Linked DNA regions of Homo sapiens: region 2 is linked to region 1. The links come from fine-mapping of genetic effects on gene expression. Tissue or cell type: lymphoblastoid cells. Region 1 holds a variant in brackets; the other region holds the start of a gene. All regions are shown on one strand. Distances are between the middles of the regions.

Evidence for each region. PIP is the estimated chance that this variant, and not a neighbour inherited with it, causes the effect.
Region 2: ZNF528 starts here. The variant in region 1 is fine-mapped to the expression of ZNF528 in lymphoblastoid cells (GTEx, PIP 0.97).

What each region holds. Positions count from the first base shown.
Region 1 is chr19:52,899,794-52,907,900 of GRCh38, reverse strand. ZNF888 (zinc finger protein 888) reads left to right here. Exons shown (of 5, transcript NM_001393938.1): 5 at 1-3,486. The coding sequence ends at 1,736. It also overlaps a transcript of ZNF320 not described here. Among named protein-coding and RNA genes, the nearest start is that of ZNF320, 6.2 kb to the right of the region's middle. The variant T/A (reference allele first, on the strand shown) is at 4,752.
Region 2 is chr19:52,393,123-52,401,229 of GRCh38, reverse strand. It overlaps ZNF528 (zinc finger protein 528), which reads right to left and starts at 3,381. Exons shown (of 7, transcript NM_032423.3): 1 at 3,326-3,381; 2 at 2,611-2,863. It overlaps ZNF528-AS1 (ZNF528 antisense RNA 1), which reads left to right and starts at 3,473. Exons shown (of 7, transcript NR_125345.1): 1 at 3,473-3,768; 2 at 3,963-4,035; 3 at 4,478-4,620; 4 at 4,731-4,865; 5 at 5,480-5,632; 6 at 6,383-6,439. It also overlaps a transcript of ZNF880 not described here. RefSeq lists an enhancer at 2,870-4,069.

The sequences.
Region 1 (8,107 bases):
CAAGCTTTCATTCACATCTGCCTGAACTGCACATATTTCAGCCCGAAGGGAAAATTGGTAATCAACTTGAGAAGTCTATCAACAATGCTTCCTCAGTTTCAACATCCCAAAGAATTTCTTGTAGGCCCAAAACCCATATTTCTAATAACTATGGGAATAATTTCTTCCATTCTTCATTACTCACACAGAAACAGGATGTACACAGGAAAGAAAAATCTTTCCAATTTAATGAGAGTGGCAAATCCTTTAATTGTAGCTCACTCTTTAAAAAACATCAGATAATTCATCTAGGAGAGAAACAATATAAATGTGATGTATGTGGCAAAGACTTTAATCAGAAGCGATACCTTGCACACCATCGTAGATGTCACACTGGTGAGAAACCTTACATGTGTAATAAATGTGGCAAGGTTTTTAATAAAAAAGCATACCTTGCACGTCATTATAGACGTCATACTGGAGAAAAACCTTACAAGTGTAATGAGTGTGGCAAGACGTTCAGTGACAAGTCAGCCCTCTTAGTTCACAAGACAATTCATACTGGAGAGAAACCTTACAAGTGTAATGAATGTGGCAAGGTTTTTAATCAACAATCAAACCTTGCACGTCATCATAGAGTTCATACTGGAGAGAAACCTTACCAATGTAAAGAATGTGACAAAGTTTTCAGTCGCAAATCATACCTTGAAAGACATAGGAGAATTCACACTGGTGAGAAACCATACAAATGTAAGGTTTGTGACAAGGCTTTCAGACATGATTCACACCTGGCACAGCATATTGTAATTCACACTAGAGAGAAACCTTACAAGTGTAATGAGTGTGGCAAAACGTTTGGTGAAAATTCAGCCCTCTTAGTTCACAAGACAATTCATACTGGAGAGAAACCTTACAAGTGTAATGAATGTGGCAAGGTTTTCAATCAACAATCAAACCTTGCACGTCATCATAGACTTCATACTGGAGAGAAACCTTACAAATGTAAAGAATGTGACAAAGTTTTCAGTCGCAAATCACACCTTGAAAGACATAGGAGAATTCACACTGGTGAGAAACCATACAAATGTAAGGTTTGTGACAAGGCTTTCAGACGTGATTCACACCTGGCACAACATACTGTAATTCACACTGGAGAGAAACCTTACAAGTGTAATGAGTGTGGCAAGACCTTCGTTCAAAATTCATCTCTTGTAATGCATAAGGTCATTCATACTGGAGAGAAACGTTACAAGTGTAATGAATGTGGCAAAAGTTTTAATCACAAATCAAGCCTTGCATATCATCATAGACTTCATACTGGAGAGAAACCTTACAAGTGTAATGAATGTGGCAAGGTTTTTAGGACACAGTCACAACTTGCATGTCATCATAGACTTCATACTGGAGAGAAACCTTACAAATGTGAAGAATGTGACAAAGTTTTCAATATCAAATCACACCTTGAAATACATAGGAGAGTTCATACTGGAGAGAAACCATACAAATGTAGGGTTTGCGACAAGGCTTTTGGGCGTGATTCATACCTTGCACAACATCAGAGAGTTCACACTGGAGAGAAACCATACAAATGTAAGGTTTGTGACAAGGCTTTCAAGTGTTACTCACACCTGGCACAACATACTAGAATTCATACTGGAGAGAAACCTTTCAAGTGTAGTGAGTGTGGCAAAGCCTTTCGTGCACAGTCAACACTTATTCACCATCAGGCAATCCATGGTGTAGGGAAACTTGACTAATGTAATGATTGTCACCAAGTCTTCAGTAACGCTACAACCATTGCAAATCATTGAAGAATCCATAATGAATAGAGATCTTACAAGTGTAGTAAATGTGGCAAATTTTTCAGACATCGTTCATACGCTGTAGTTCATGGGTGAACTCATACTGGAGAGAAACCTTACAAATGTCATGATTGAGGCAAGGTCTTCAGTCAAGCTTCATCCTATGCAAAACAGGAGAATTCATACAGGAGAGAAACCTCACAAGTGTGATGATTGTGAGCAAAGCCTTTACTTCACGTTCACACCTCATTAGACATCAAAGAATCCATACTGGACAGAAATCTTACAAATGTCATCAGTGTGGCAAGGTCTTCAGTCTGAGATCACTCCTTGCAGAATATCAGAAAATTTATTTTTGAGATAATAGTTCCGAATGCAATGAGTATAGCAAACCATCAAGCATTAATTGACACTAGAGTCAGTTCAGCATTGACTTGAGTTTGAGTTGACTTAACGTTGAGTTCAAGCATTAATTGACATTAAAGTGTTTATGTTAAGAGGATTAGGCTGAGTGCGGTGGCTCACACCTGTAATGCTAGCACTGTGGGAGGCCAAGGTGGGTGGATCTCTTGAGGTCAGGAGTTTGAGACTAGTGTGGCCAACAGGCGTGAGCCACTTTTCCCAGCCTGTTTTTTGTTTCTTTAACAAAAACAGATACAGATTTTTTTTTTTTTTAATCACCTGGGTGCAGGCAAGCTGAGTCCGAAAAGAGAGTCAGGGAAGGGAGATGGGGTGGGGCCGTTTTATAGGATTTGGGTAGGTAGTGGAAAGTTACAATCAAAGGGGGTTGTTCTCTGGCTGGCAGAGGTGGGGGTCACAAGGTGCTCAGTGGGGGAGTTTTTGAGCCAGGATGAGCCAGGAGAAGGAATTTCACAAGGTAATGTCATCAGTTAAGGCAGGGACCAGCCAATTTCACTTCTTTTGTGGTGGAATGTCAACTGATAGGCATTTTTATGGGTACCGTGTTGAATCTAAATCACATTGGGTTATATAATTACTTAACAATATTAATTTTTCCAAACTATCAATATGGGTTGTATCTCTATGTATGTTTTTAATCATTTTGATCAACATTTATAGATTTCAAGGTACAAACTTCTCAGCTTTGTACGTTTATTCCTAAGTATTTCTTACTTTAAGTTCTCTAGCAAATGGAAGTGTTTTTAAATTTTCTTTTAAAATTGTTTATTGTTAATGTGTGGAAATTCAAGTAATTTTTGGTGCCGATATTGTATTGTGCAAATCCACTGAATTTATTTAGTAGTTTTGAGGGAAGAGAGAGACCCTCTCATATTGTTTTATATTGTTTTATACTCAGTACCTGTTTTAGGAAAAAAACAAGGAAGTGAAATCAAAGACAGGCAGCCCGGCGCCAGGCCTGAAACCAGGCCTGGGCCTGCCTGGCCTAAACCCAGTAGTTAAAAATCAACTCATAACTTAGAAACTGATGTTATTCATAGATTCCAGACATTGTATAGAAGAACATTGTGAAACTCCCTGCTCTGTTCTTTTCCACTCTGAACACCGGTGCATGCAGCCCCTGTCACATACCCACTGCTTGCTCAAATCAATCACGACCGTTTCATGTGAAATCCTTAGTGTTGTGAGCCCTTAAAAAGGACAGAAATTGTGCATTAGGGGAGCTCAGATTTTAAGGCAGTAGCTTGCCGATGCTCCCAGCTGAATAAAGCCCTTCCTTCTGCAACTCAGTGTCTGAGAGGTTTTGTCTGAGGCTCATCCTGCTACTTTTCTTGGTTCCCTGACCTGAAAATGAGGTAACTGATGGATGGCCGAGGCAGCCCTTTAGGTGGCTTAGGCCTGCCCTGTGGAGCATCCCCGCGGGGGACTCTGGCCAGCCTGAGTGACACGATCCAAAGAGCGCTCCTGGGTAGGAAATTGCCCCAATGGAATGCCTCGCCAGAGCGGTGCATAGCAGGCCCCCACGGAGGATTAACGCAGTGGCTGAACACCAGGAAGGAACTGGCACTTGGAGTCCAGACATCTGAAACTTGGTAAGACTAATCTTTGGAACTTGCCCCACTCCACCTGAGTGGAAGCGTGGCCTGATCACCCACAGCATGCCTGTATTGGCACTTTTGTCCTGGTTTTGACTTGGCTTTACTTAGTAAGACTAGTCTTTGGAACTTGCCCCACTCCATCTGAGTGGAAGCGTGGCCTGATCACCCACAGCATGCCTGCATTGGCACTTTTGTTCTGGTTTTGACTTGATTTGAATTGTTAGATACTTTAGTTTTGGTTTTGACTTGGCTTGAATTTTTTAGTACTCAGATTTTGAATTTCATGATTTTGGTTTGGTATAAACGGTAAAAGTGCGTGTGTGTGCCCTCTTTACCCATTCTTGTGGTGAGTATGTGTGGTGTGAGCATGGCATTTTGTCTCAGAAGAAAAAAAAAACATAGTTCAGGCACAAAGTAAGCCCACCCCACTAAGAAATATGTTAAAGAATTTCAAGAAAGAATTTAAAGGAGATTATGGTGTAACTGTGACCCCAGGAAAACTTAGAACTTTGTGTGAAATAGACTGGCCAGCATTTGAGGTAGGTTAGCCATCAGAAGGAAGCCTGGATGGGTCCCTAGTTTCAAAGATATGGCACAAGGTAACCTGTAAGCCAAGGCACCCAGACCAGTTTCAGTACACAGACAGTTACACCTGGTTTTAGACCTCCTCCCCCCGCCCCCCACAGTAGTTAAAAGAACAGCAGCATAAGTGGCTGGCAGAGGCAAGAAAAGACCAGCAGAGAGAAAAAGAGGCCATCTATACCAATTCTAAGTTAATTTAGACTAAACAAGGTCTTATTAATAGCAAAGGATAATTGAAGTCCCAAACTTACAAGGTTTTCAACAAAAGTGAAGTTTGCTAAAAGTTAACAGCGTAGCATGTATTATAGTAACTTCTAATCTGGTAGCCTTAGACAGTCTAGTCCAAAGACATAAAGTTTGCTTTAAAAAA[T/A]TTTTTTATGCAAAAAATGTATAATTTAAAAGTAATAAGGCCTCCTATTATTGAAGAAACAGTTTATGTACAAGGTGTATAAGAAAAGTAAAATATACCTATAGTAAAAAGATTATAAGGAGGCATAAGAATGTGGATTTTTACCTATATTAAAAAGTTAAAAAAATTATTGTTTGAAAGTTTAAGCAAGTTTTAAAACATTAATTGTAAAGAAAATTCTGTGTGTAAACATATTAGCTAAAGTTAAAAAGGTATCATCCAGTTTTTCTGTGAAACGGACATCAAAGTAAAAATGCAACAGGTTTTTTCTTAAAGCATCAACCTGCTCTTTAACAAAAATTACAAAAAGTTAAAAAGAGTCTACAAAATCTAACCTTATGGTCAAACATGAAAAATTAGATAAATATGTCTACAAAGTTTCATTAAAATTAAATTTAACATTAGTAACACACTAATATAAAAGTAAAATTTAGCTTATCTGGTATAAAAATCATACAAGAAGCATTATTAAATATAAAATGGTGTTCAGCTTTCTTTGGTCTAAAAACTAATAAAAATCGGTGCTAAAGGAAGCATTCATTTTACTAGAGGATGATAGAAGTTAAAGACTTAAAACAAACTTTGGCAATTGAGACAGCATACCAAGATGCAAATGCCTGGTTGAAATAGATCAAATATTCCATCTGCACATTAAACAAAAGCAATTGTTATGCTTGTGCACATGGCAGGCCAGAGGCCCTGATTGTCCCCCTTCCACTAAGGTGGTCCTGTAGTTGACCAGGTGTGGGCTGCATGGTAGCTCTTTTCCAGGATTCTACAGCCTGGAGTAACATATAGCTCTCTCTGCTATATCCCGAAGTCCCTGCGGATCAGCCCCCGAGGGCCTTCCAGCTTCCGTCTCCCAATACTAAGTTCACTTCTTGTATCTCACGGCAGAGAGGAGATTTAGCATTCCTTGGAGACCTGAAAGGATGCAGTGAGCTTAAGAATTTTCAAGAGCTTATCAATCGGTCAGCCCTTGTTCATCTCTGAGCAGATGTGTGGTGGTATTGTAGTAGACCTTTAGTAGGCACTCTGCCGAATAACTAGAGTGGCACTTATGGTTTAGTCCATTTCACCCTGGTATTTCATCAACCAGAAAAAAAAAAAAGAAAAACTCATGTCAGCCCCAGCCCTGAGGCTACCTGACCTGACAAAACTCTTTGCACTCTATGTGTCAGAAAGAAAAAAAAAAATGGCAGTTGAAGTTTTAACCCAGACTGTAAGGCCCTGGCCAAGGCCAGTAGCCTGACTCTCAAAACAACTAGACGAGGTTTCCCAAGGCTGGCCCCCATGTCCAAGGGCCCTGGCAGCAATGGCCCTGTTAGCACAAGAAGCAGATAAGCTAACTCTTAGGCAAAACATAAACATAAAGTCCCTTTAATAAATAACAAAAGACATCATTAGCTAATAAACGCTAGACTAACTAGATACCAAAGCTTGCTCTGTGAAAATCCCCACATAACCATTGAAGTTTGCAACACCCTAACCCCGCCACCTTACTCCTAGTATCAAAGAGCCCAGTTAAACATAACTGTTTAGAGGTGCTGGACTCAGTTTATTCTAGTGGGCCCAACCTCTGAGACCACCCTTAAACATCAGTAGACTAGGAGCTGTACGTAGATAAGAGCAGCTTCGCCAACCCCTGCAAAGTGACTCTGAAGAAGATGACAAGCCCTGCTGCAGTCACACCCGGAAGCTGACTGGTCCACGCACGACTGAAGCAGGAAGAAACTCATCGCAGGACTCATTTTCCTTAAAATTTAGACTTGTACAGTAAGGACTTCAACTGACCTTCCTCAGACAAAGAACTGTTTCCAGTATCTACATCAAGTCACTGAAGTTAGACAAAAGATTGCTACAGTCCTATTATTTTATAGTTATTATAAGTGTACCAGGATTCTAAAAGAAATTTGTTTGTATAATGCTATTCTATCCAAAGTATGTAGCCCAAGGAATAACCAACCTGATGTGTGTTATAACCCATTTTAAGCCTCCCATGATTACAGTTTTTAAAATAAAATTAAAGACTAGTCTTTTTCTAAGTGACACAAGTAAAATAATAGCTAGAACAGAAGAGGGGTCCCCAAAAATATAACCTTAAAATTTGATGCTTGTGCCACTATTGATAGTAAGCAGCATAGAATAAGATGCAGTTCTCTAAATTAGAAAAAAAGTTACACAGTTAAAAAAAAAAATAAGTATATCTGTCAAGAATCATATTTATGTGAGATGTGTCAATACTAGTCTTATGTCATTTGGGCTACTTAAAAAGAAGATAAAAATAATCCTGTTTAGCTCCAAAAAAGAAAAGTCAGCCCCTCTTGCATGAGTGGGGGCTGCAGCCTTTTAAAATTGATAATCACAAACCCATCAGACCCAAAGTACAATTAAAAAAAAAATGTAAATTAAGCATTGATGAAAAAAAACTAGATCCTAGCGTAAACATCCTAATAAAAAAAGAAGTTGAAAAATGCTCTCCAGAACCAGTATTTCAGGCTTTCTATGATGAAATAAATGTGCCAGTACCTAAGATTCCAGGAAAAACTAAAAATTTGTTTTTGCAATTAGCCTAACATGAGGCCCAGTCTCTACAAGTCACCTCATGTTATGTTTGTAGAAGAACTGTAACAAGAGATCAATGGCCATAGGAAGCCCGAGAATTAGTTCCTACAAACCCAGTTCCTGATGAATTCCCAGCCCAAAAGAACCACCCTGACAATTTTTAAGTTCTAAAAGTCTCAATTATTAGACGGTATTGCATAGCTAGAGAAAGAAAAAAATTCACTCATCATCCTGTAAGGCGGCTTAGTTGTCTTAGGCAAAAGTTGTATAATAGTACCACAAAAACAGTTACATACTAAAGTTCCAGTTACACAAAAAGAAATCCATTCAGTAAATTTCCAAAGTTGCAGACTGTTGAGGCCCACCCGGAATTCCACCAGGACTAGACGGCCCCCACCAGGTTATACCAGATACATAGACAGAGCTCATGCTAAGCTGCCTGATCAGTGGACAGGTAGCTGTGTAATTGGCACCAGTAAGCCATCTTTCCTCTTACTGCCCATAAATACAGGTGAACTTCTAGGCTTCCCAGTCTATGCTTCCTGTGAAAAACGAAGCATAGCCATAGGTAATTAGAAAGATGATAAATGACCTCCTAAAGAATTATATAATACTGTAAGCCTGCCACTTAGACACAAGACAGCTCATGAGGTTATCGAACCCCCATCTACATGCTCAACCGAATCATACAGTTGCAAGCTGTTTTAAAAATTATTACTAATAAAACCGGTCAAGCCTTGACTGTTCTTGCC
Region 2 (8,107 bases), 510 kb after region 1:
CACGTGGAGGTGGAGATGCCTGTGGATGTCCCAGCAGAGATGTCGAGAACATGACTGGACACAGGATTTTGGAATTCAGGGGAGAGGGGTGGGTGAAGAGGGAAAATGGAGACATGTTGGTGGTGTTTAAAACCATAGATGAGATCAAAAGGAAAAGCTGAGGGTGTGGGCAGACAGAACAGGTTTAAGGACTAAATTGGGTGACATTTCCATATTCAGAGAAGACACTTCAGGAGACAGCAGCAGAGGAAACTGATAAGATACGAAAGTAATGAGAAAAATTTTAAACAGATTTTTAAAAATACAAGCAATGTCTTCAAAGCTGCGAAAAAAAAGAGTGATCAGCTGTGAAACATGCTGCTGACAGAAAAAGACAGGAGGACAGAAAATTCAAAGTCAGATTTAAGCAGGGTAAAGGGCTCATGCCTCTAATCCCAGCATGCTGGGACTTCTTTGTAGGAGGATGGCTAGAAGTCAGGAGTTCAAGACCAGCCTGGGCAATGTAGTGAGACTTTGTCTCAAAAAAAAAAATTTTTTTTTCAATCAGCCACGCAGAGGGACAGGCCCATAGTCCTATCTACTCTGGAGGCTAAGACGGGAGGATTGCTGGAGTCTAGGGGTTTGAGGTTATGGTGAACTATGACTGTGCCACTGCATGCCAGCTTGGGTGACAGAGCAAGACCTTGTCTCTAAAAATTAAATGAATAAATAAATAACTAGATTTAGAAACAGAGAAGTCACTGGTGACTCAGATAAAAAAAGGAGCAGTGGAATGGTTGGTGTCAAAACCTGATTGGATGGGGTCAAGCAAGAAATGGAGGAAAGAGTGAGAGAGCGCCTAAACAAGATTTTGGTATATTGTGCTCTTACATGGAGCACAGAAAAGGCATACTTATTGCAAGTAAAAATGTAGCTAATACTTTGTTTTTTCTTCTGAGGATGAAATAGTGGAAAAAATAAAGGCGTGTGTGTGTGTGTGTGTGTGTGTGTGTGTGTGTGTGTTTTAATGGGCAACAACTCCATCTGGGTATGCTGACCAAAATAATTCCCTTGAAGTAAAATCTGATGACACTGTGGAGGAGGGATGCCGTGGCATCAGGAGAGAGTGAATGGGGCTGGCCTGTGGCACACAGTCTCAGCATCAGCAGCAGCCAGGAGCAGGGACAGACAATTCCCAGTCACTACTAAGAACACAGTCCTAGAGACAGGTGAGTGGGCCTGTTGGAAAATTCTTCCCCTTACTGTTTGAGACAGGAAAAAACCACACTGTTTTTACTACTCTCACACCCAAAGGAGAATCCCTCACCTTTAGTGATCAAAATGTGTCTGTGGTTGTTCCTACACTGACCAGTTAAACTGAGTAAAATTACAGAACACCCAGGTGCTGTCTGACGAAGAACTGCTTGTTGGTGACAAGTAATTCCCATATTACTTTGGTGACCAGAGATGAGGCATTCTGTGTTGAGCGCTCTTTATTGTGTTCACTGTGAACACAAAAACACACTGGTTTTTCCTAACTTATACACTCACACCCTAGTCCATCCCAAGAAAAGAGAAGAGTGCCTTATAAATAGTGTTCCAATTCTCATCTTCATGTGTGGTTTTTTGTTTTTTGTTTTTTGAGATGGAGTCTTGCTCTGTCACCTAACCTGGAGTGCAGTGACACGATCTCGGCTCACTGCAACCTCTGCCTCCCAGGATTAAGCGATTCTCCTGCCTCAGCCTCCAGAGTAGCTGGGATTACAGGCGCAGGCCATCAGGCCCAGCTAATTTTTGTATTTTTACTAGAGATGGGTTTCACATGTTGGCCAGGCTGGTCTCAACTCCTGACCTCAAGTGATCCGCTCACCTCAGCTTCCCAAAGTACTGGGATTACACGTGTGAGCCACAGCTCCTAGCCTCATGTGTTCTAAACAAATTTTATATTATAGAAAAATTAATATGTCACAATTCAATCATAATTTCCAATCAACTCACCACTCATCTGTAACCAGGGTCCCCCTCTTTCCTCACTACTGTTTCCCTGCCTCATTCTGTACATATCTCTCATTCTCATCTTTTTTCCTAGCTCTTTTTTTCTCTATTTTCCCCTAGGATTCTGTTCATTTTGAGTCCCTCCTCTTCTCTTTGTCCCATTCTTCCCTCTATTCCTTCTCTCCCACCTGTTCTGATCCATTTTTACAACTTGTTTCACCTCTTATTCCTCTTTCTGCCCAATCTTTCATTGTCCCTAATCTCCATATATTTCTGCCTCTTTCCTCCCACATCTCAGCTCCCCTTGGGGTCTCCCTGTTAAATTCCATCTTCGATATTACACACCCCTGTCCCCACTCTCTGGCACCCTTAGATCCCAGGCCTCCCCCTGCTGTGGTTCTCCCTGTTCTCCTTGTGACCAGCTGCCCCCTCTGGCTGTCCCAGCACCACGCTGCTCTGTCTGACCTGGCTCCAAATCCCTCCTCCTCTCCCCCCTCTGTCTGAGAAGCCTTCCCTATCTTGTTGAATTTCGTCTTTCTACAGACCCAGGTTTGTCTATATTTTTACAGTTACTTTTCTCCCCTGCTATTTTCTCGGCACCTTCTTTCACTGTGCCTCTGCAAACCCCTCACTCACCTTCTACTTTGCCTTCTGTTAATGGGTCTCTCATTCTTCATTTCTCTTTCAAAATTTCTCTATTTCCTCTGCCTCGTTCCCATCTCTTTTTCTCCACACATTCACAGGGAGGGGATTGGAATAAGATGCCCACTTCCGGAAGAGCTCATTTTCTGTGGGCTGGAAACTGGCTCGAGAGAACACTGGATGTCAGGAGACTGAAGTCACCCCCCACACTCGGGGTCAGGAGAACCGGTGGCTGGAAAAGGGAGGCCTGGGGAACAGAGGGTCCAGATTAAGGAGCAAAAAGGCAGGAGTGGGTCAGGAGAGGGGTGGAGTCTGCAGAAACCAGGTCTGGGCAGAGGACGAGGCCTCTCGTGCCCTGTTGGGGCGCTGAGCTCTAGGGGCAAAGAAGGGCGAGGCTAGGGGAACGGAGAGTGAGGATTTTACGTGGTGCGGGGCGTGTGTAGGGGTTACTAAAGGATTTGAAGCAGGTAAACCCCACGATAGGAGGTGTCTACGTGGGTAAATGACAAAAAGACCGGGCACACGACCAGCCTCCAAGCGATTTTAACACGCAGAAAGCGACTCCCAGACTCTCAAAGGATGTCTGAATTTACTCGGGGTGGAGGGAGCGGTGCCGGGATTTCAAGGTCTGCATGCCCCTCAGCTCCCGGGTATAGAAGCAGAGAAGAACTGGCTAGCCTAGACTTAACATAGACAAAGGGAAACTCACGCACTGCTGCGAAAACAGTTTCTCCCTGCAATCGGCTTCCGGGTCTACCGGAAACTGCGCTCTAGGCGTTCGCCCCCCGCGGTCCGCTTCCGGGTTTGCACGAAATTGCGCGCGCATCCTAGAGGCCGGACTGGCTGGGACCAGGGCGGGCCGGGACAAAGCCTGGGCCGGGCCTGCGCTTCCGTTCGCTTGACTGGCTGCGCTTGTTTTCAGGGTTTTGGTCTGAAAACGGATCTTACCTGCGCAGAGCAAAATCGGTTGTAGATTATATCCACGAAAATTCCTTCTATTAAAATGAATTTCAAGTCCCACCTACCCTGGAAGCAGAAAGAGAGAGAAGAGAGAGAGTAAAGAGAAAGAGAAAAGAAAGAGAAGTTGAAAAAGAGAAAGAAAACCAAGAAAGAAAGAGAAAAAAACCGAAAATAAATGGACAAGAAAGAAAAGTAAGGAGGGAAGGGAAGGGAGGAAGGGAAGGGAAGCTTTAGGAATTGAATTAACACACTTTGGAATTGTCTGTGAAGGGGATGATGCAAGCTAAAATGTGAAATGCAAAACCCTGCCAGGGTAGAATGTTCTATTTCATGCCAGTGCCCATAGAAGATAAATACTTTTCATTTATCTTCCCCATTCACTCTAGACGGTGAAGGTCAACCCTGTGCTCAATTCCAGAGACTTTCCTAGGGACATCGTGTTGGGCATGGAGGACTAAGGCCAGTGTGAAGATAAGTCACCGATTCTTTAAAAAAAAAAAGCCAGTAACTTATAAAAATAGCCATAAACGACGTAGTTTTTTGTTGTTGTTGTTGTTTTGAGACAGCGTCTCCCTCTGTCCCCCAGGCGGGAGTACAGTGGCAGGCACTCAGCTCACTGTAACCTCCGCCTCCTGGGTTCAAGTGATTCTCTTGCCCCAGCCTCCAGAGTAGCCACCACGCCCGGTCCAACTTAGTTTTTTAATACTTTTTAAAATTTTAAGACAGGGTCTCTGCCACCGAGGCTGAAATGCAGTGGCGCAATCATAGCTCACTGCAACCTTGACTTCCTGGGGTCCTGGGCAGGTGACCCCCTGTCTCAGCCTGCCGAGTAGCTGTGAGTAAAGGCCTGTGCCTCTCCACTGTGCTAATTTTCTACTGTTTGTTGCTTTGTTTTTAATAGAGATGTAGTCTGGTTTTGTTGCCCAGGCTGGTCTCCAGCTTCTAGCCTCAAGCAGTCTTCCCATCTGCTCCTACCAAAGTGCTCGGATTATAGGCATGAATCACCTTGCATGGGAGATAAGGACCCCCACATCAAGCCCTCAGGTTATTTTTGAAACACAAATACATAAGGCCCACAAGCAGGCCCATTGGCTGCAGACAGTGGGGTCACCTGAAGAACTTTTCTTTGATCTGAGTACCAACTTCTCACCTAGGTCACTGGGATCCTGGACTACGGCACTGCTCCAGGCAGGCCTGGTTATCCTGCTTGAGGCAGCAATCCTCTTGAGCCTAGTGAAATGCAACTGGCTGTACCTCAATGATGTTGCCCTGAGATTCTGCCAGTCGAGGTATTACTTCAATCTCCTGAGACCAGCCTCTACCTCCAGATCCAGGGAGGTCAGTGCACATGTAAATGGACTAGCTTTATTAAAGGGGATATCTGGGCCAGGCGTGGTGGCTCACGCCTGTAATCCCAATACTTTGGGAGGCCGAGGAGGGCAGATCACCTGAGGTCGGGAATTAGAGACCAGCCTGGTTAACATGGTGAAACGAAGTCTCTACTAAAAATACAAAAAAAAAAAAAAAAAAAATTAGCCAGGCATGGTGGCACACGCCTGTAGTCCCAGCTACTCGAGAGGCTGAGACACAAGAATTGCTTGAATCTGGGAGGTGGAGGTGCAGTAAGCCAAGATTGCGCCACTGCACTCCAGCCTGGGAGACAGAGCGAGACTCCGTCTCAAAAAATATAAAAATAAAAGGGATATCTGGATTGGCGGAGAGACTGCAGGACAGCATTCAAGTGGGGTTGAATTGGCCCAGTTGCATCTGACTTCTCACTTGTAGTTCCCAAGAATGAATATAGAATGTGCTGGAAAAGCAACATCCTGAGAGGAAGGGACCGGTGAGAAAAGGACAGGATGTGTTCCAGATCCCCAGAACAGGATCCCCTTTGTTGCTTTAGGCCAACGTGCCATGCATCCCTGGAGCATGAAACCCAGGATGGGCCGCCTTCCAGCCTCCCACAGCTGTGATGCAAGTTGAACACATACAGAGAGACTGCATCTGCACTGGGTGGTTTTCCTGAGCCTTGGGGAGCAGAATGCATGAATCCCAGGTATCTGCCGATCTGTATGTAACAAATTCACTTCATGTAACTTACTGTGTGTCCGTGAGATTATCTCTCACTCAACTCAGACACATTGGCAACCAGTGTGCAGTGAACCTGCTTCACAAGCAAGGATGTGGAGAAACTATTTTCGTACATTTTGTGGGAATCTGAAATACTGCGGTCAGTATGGAAAGCAGTATCATGGGAAACTTCCTCAACTCAAGATCACCTACCAATCCTTACAGAATCAGAATCATCATACAAACTGGTGAAAGCATAGTTTCCCCTAGAGGTTGGGATGAGGGCAAGAATGTCCCCTCTTATCACTACTATTCCACACAATATGAAAGGTTCCAGCCAGTGAAATAAAGGAAAAAGAAATAAAAGTGACAGGCTGGGTGTGGTGTCTGAGGCCTGTAATCACAGTGCTTTGGGAGGCTGAGGAAGGAGGGTGGCCTGAGGACAGGACAAAAAAAATAGTGTACCAACAGAAAATATGTTGGTTGTGCAGGCTAATACCTTTCCCAAAGGAAGGTAGCTACATCCCTATGACCTGTGTTACTGGATATATCAAAAGGGAGTTTGCAAATGTGGTCTAGATAAGGATCTTTAGATAGACATCCTGAATTATATGGTCAAAGTGATAGAATCACAAGGTTCAATATCAGAAGGGTGCAGGTGGATGCGAAGGGACAGAGACAGTGGTGATGTGTTGAAAATAGAGGGATAAAGAGATTTTTTTTCTCACCTTTAAAGATGGAGGAAGTGGACCATGAGTCAAAGGATGTAAGTGGCCTCTGGAACCTACAAAGGGTAAGGAAACAAATTCTCCCCTGGAGATTAATGAAGAATCACAGAACTATGGACCCATATTAGATATGTGACTTACAGAATTATAAAAGAATAAATTTTTCTTGTTTTAAGCCAATCACTGTGTATAGCAATAGGAAACTGATGAAATGATTTTATGTAGAAAATTCCAAAAAAATCTACAAAAATCTCTAGAACAAGAAAAATGTAAAGGTAGCAAAGTATAAGGTCAACCTACAAAAATATCGTATATTTCATCAGCCAGGCATGGTGGCTCGTGCCTGTAATCCCAGCACTTTGGGAGGCCAAGGCAGGCAGATCACTCAAGCTCAGGAGTTTGAGACCAGGCTGGGTAACATGGTGAAACCCCATCTCTACAAAACACAAAAATTTAACAGGCCATGGTGGCACATGCCTGCAGTGCCAGCTACTGGGGAAGCTGAGGTGGGAGGATGACTTAAGCCTGCAGGACACAGGTTGCAGTAGCTGAGATTGCTCCACTGCACTCCAGCCAGGATGACAGAGTAAGGCCCTGTCTCAAAATAATAATAATAATAATCTTGTATATTTCTATACACTAGCAATTTGCACATGAAACCTGATATTAAAAATAAAATACTATGTATGATTGCTCCATTAAGAAAAAGGTCAAAGAGGCCGGGTGCAGTGGCTTACACCTGTAATCCCAGCACTTTGGGAGGCCAAGGCAGGTGGACTACGAGGTCAGGAGATCGAGACTATCCTGGCTAACACGGTGAAACCCCATCTCTACTAAGAAAATACAAAAAAATTAGCCAGGTGTGGTGGCGGGTGCCTGTAGTCCCAGCTACTGGGGAGGCCGAGGCAGGAGAATGGCGTGAACTCAGGAGGCGGAGCTTGCAGTGAGCTGAGATCGCGCCACTGCACTCCAGCCTGGGCGACAGAGCAAGACTCCGTCTCAAAAAAAAAAAAAAAAAAAGGGGGGGGGCAAAGAAATACATGTGAAACAAAACATTCATAGAACTGTTATGTTACAACTACCAAATGCTGATAAAAGAAATCAAAGACAGCAAATAGAGACATATACCATATACATTTATTGGAAGACTCCATGTAAAGCAATATGAATTATACAAATCTGACACATAGGGTTAATACCTTTCCTAATTAAGGCATTCTGCAGATACTAACAAGGTTAGCAGTTATGTAGAAAGACAAAAAACCCAAACACCTAAAATAGCTAAAACATCTGACCAACAACAACAAAAGATTGGTATCACTTCATGTGATTTCAAGTCTTCTAATACAATAAAAGTATTTTTTCCCTTTCTCATATTTACAGTAAACCTAGTTTGTATTTGTCATTGTCTCGAAGCAAGAATCTGTCCCAGAAAAAAAAAAAAGAAAGAAAGAAAATTTCCATTCAAAACTAACAGGATTTAGGCCAGGCATGGTGGCTCACACCTGTAATCCCAGCCCTTTGGGAGGCTGAGGCGGGCAGATCAAATGAGGACAGCAGTTCGAGACCAGCCTGGCCAACTTGGTGAAACCCTCTCTCTACTAAAAATACAGAAATTAGCCAAGGATGGTGGCAGGCACCAGTAATCCCAGCTACTCAGGAGGCTGAGGCAGGAGACTAGCTTAAACCTGGGAGGCAGAGGTTGCAGTGAGCCGAGATTGCGCCACTGTACT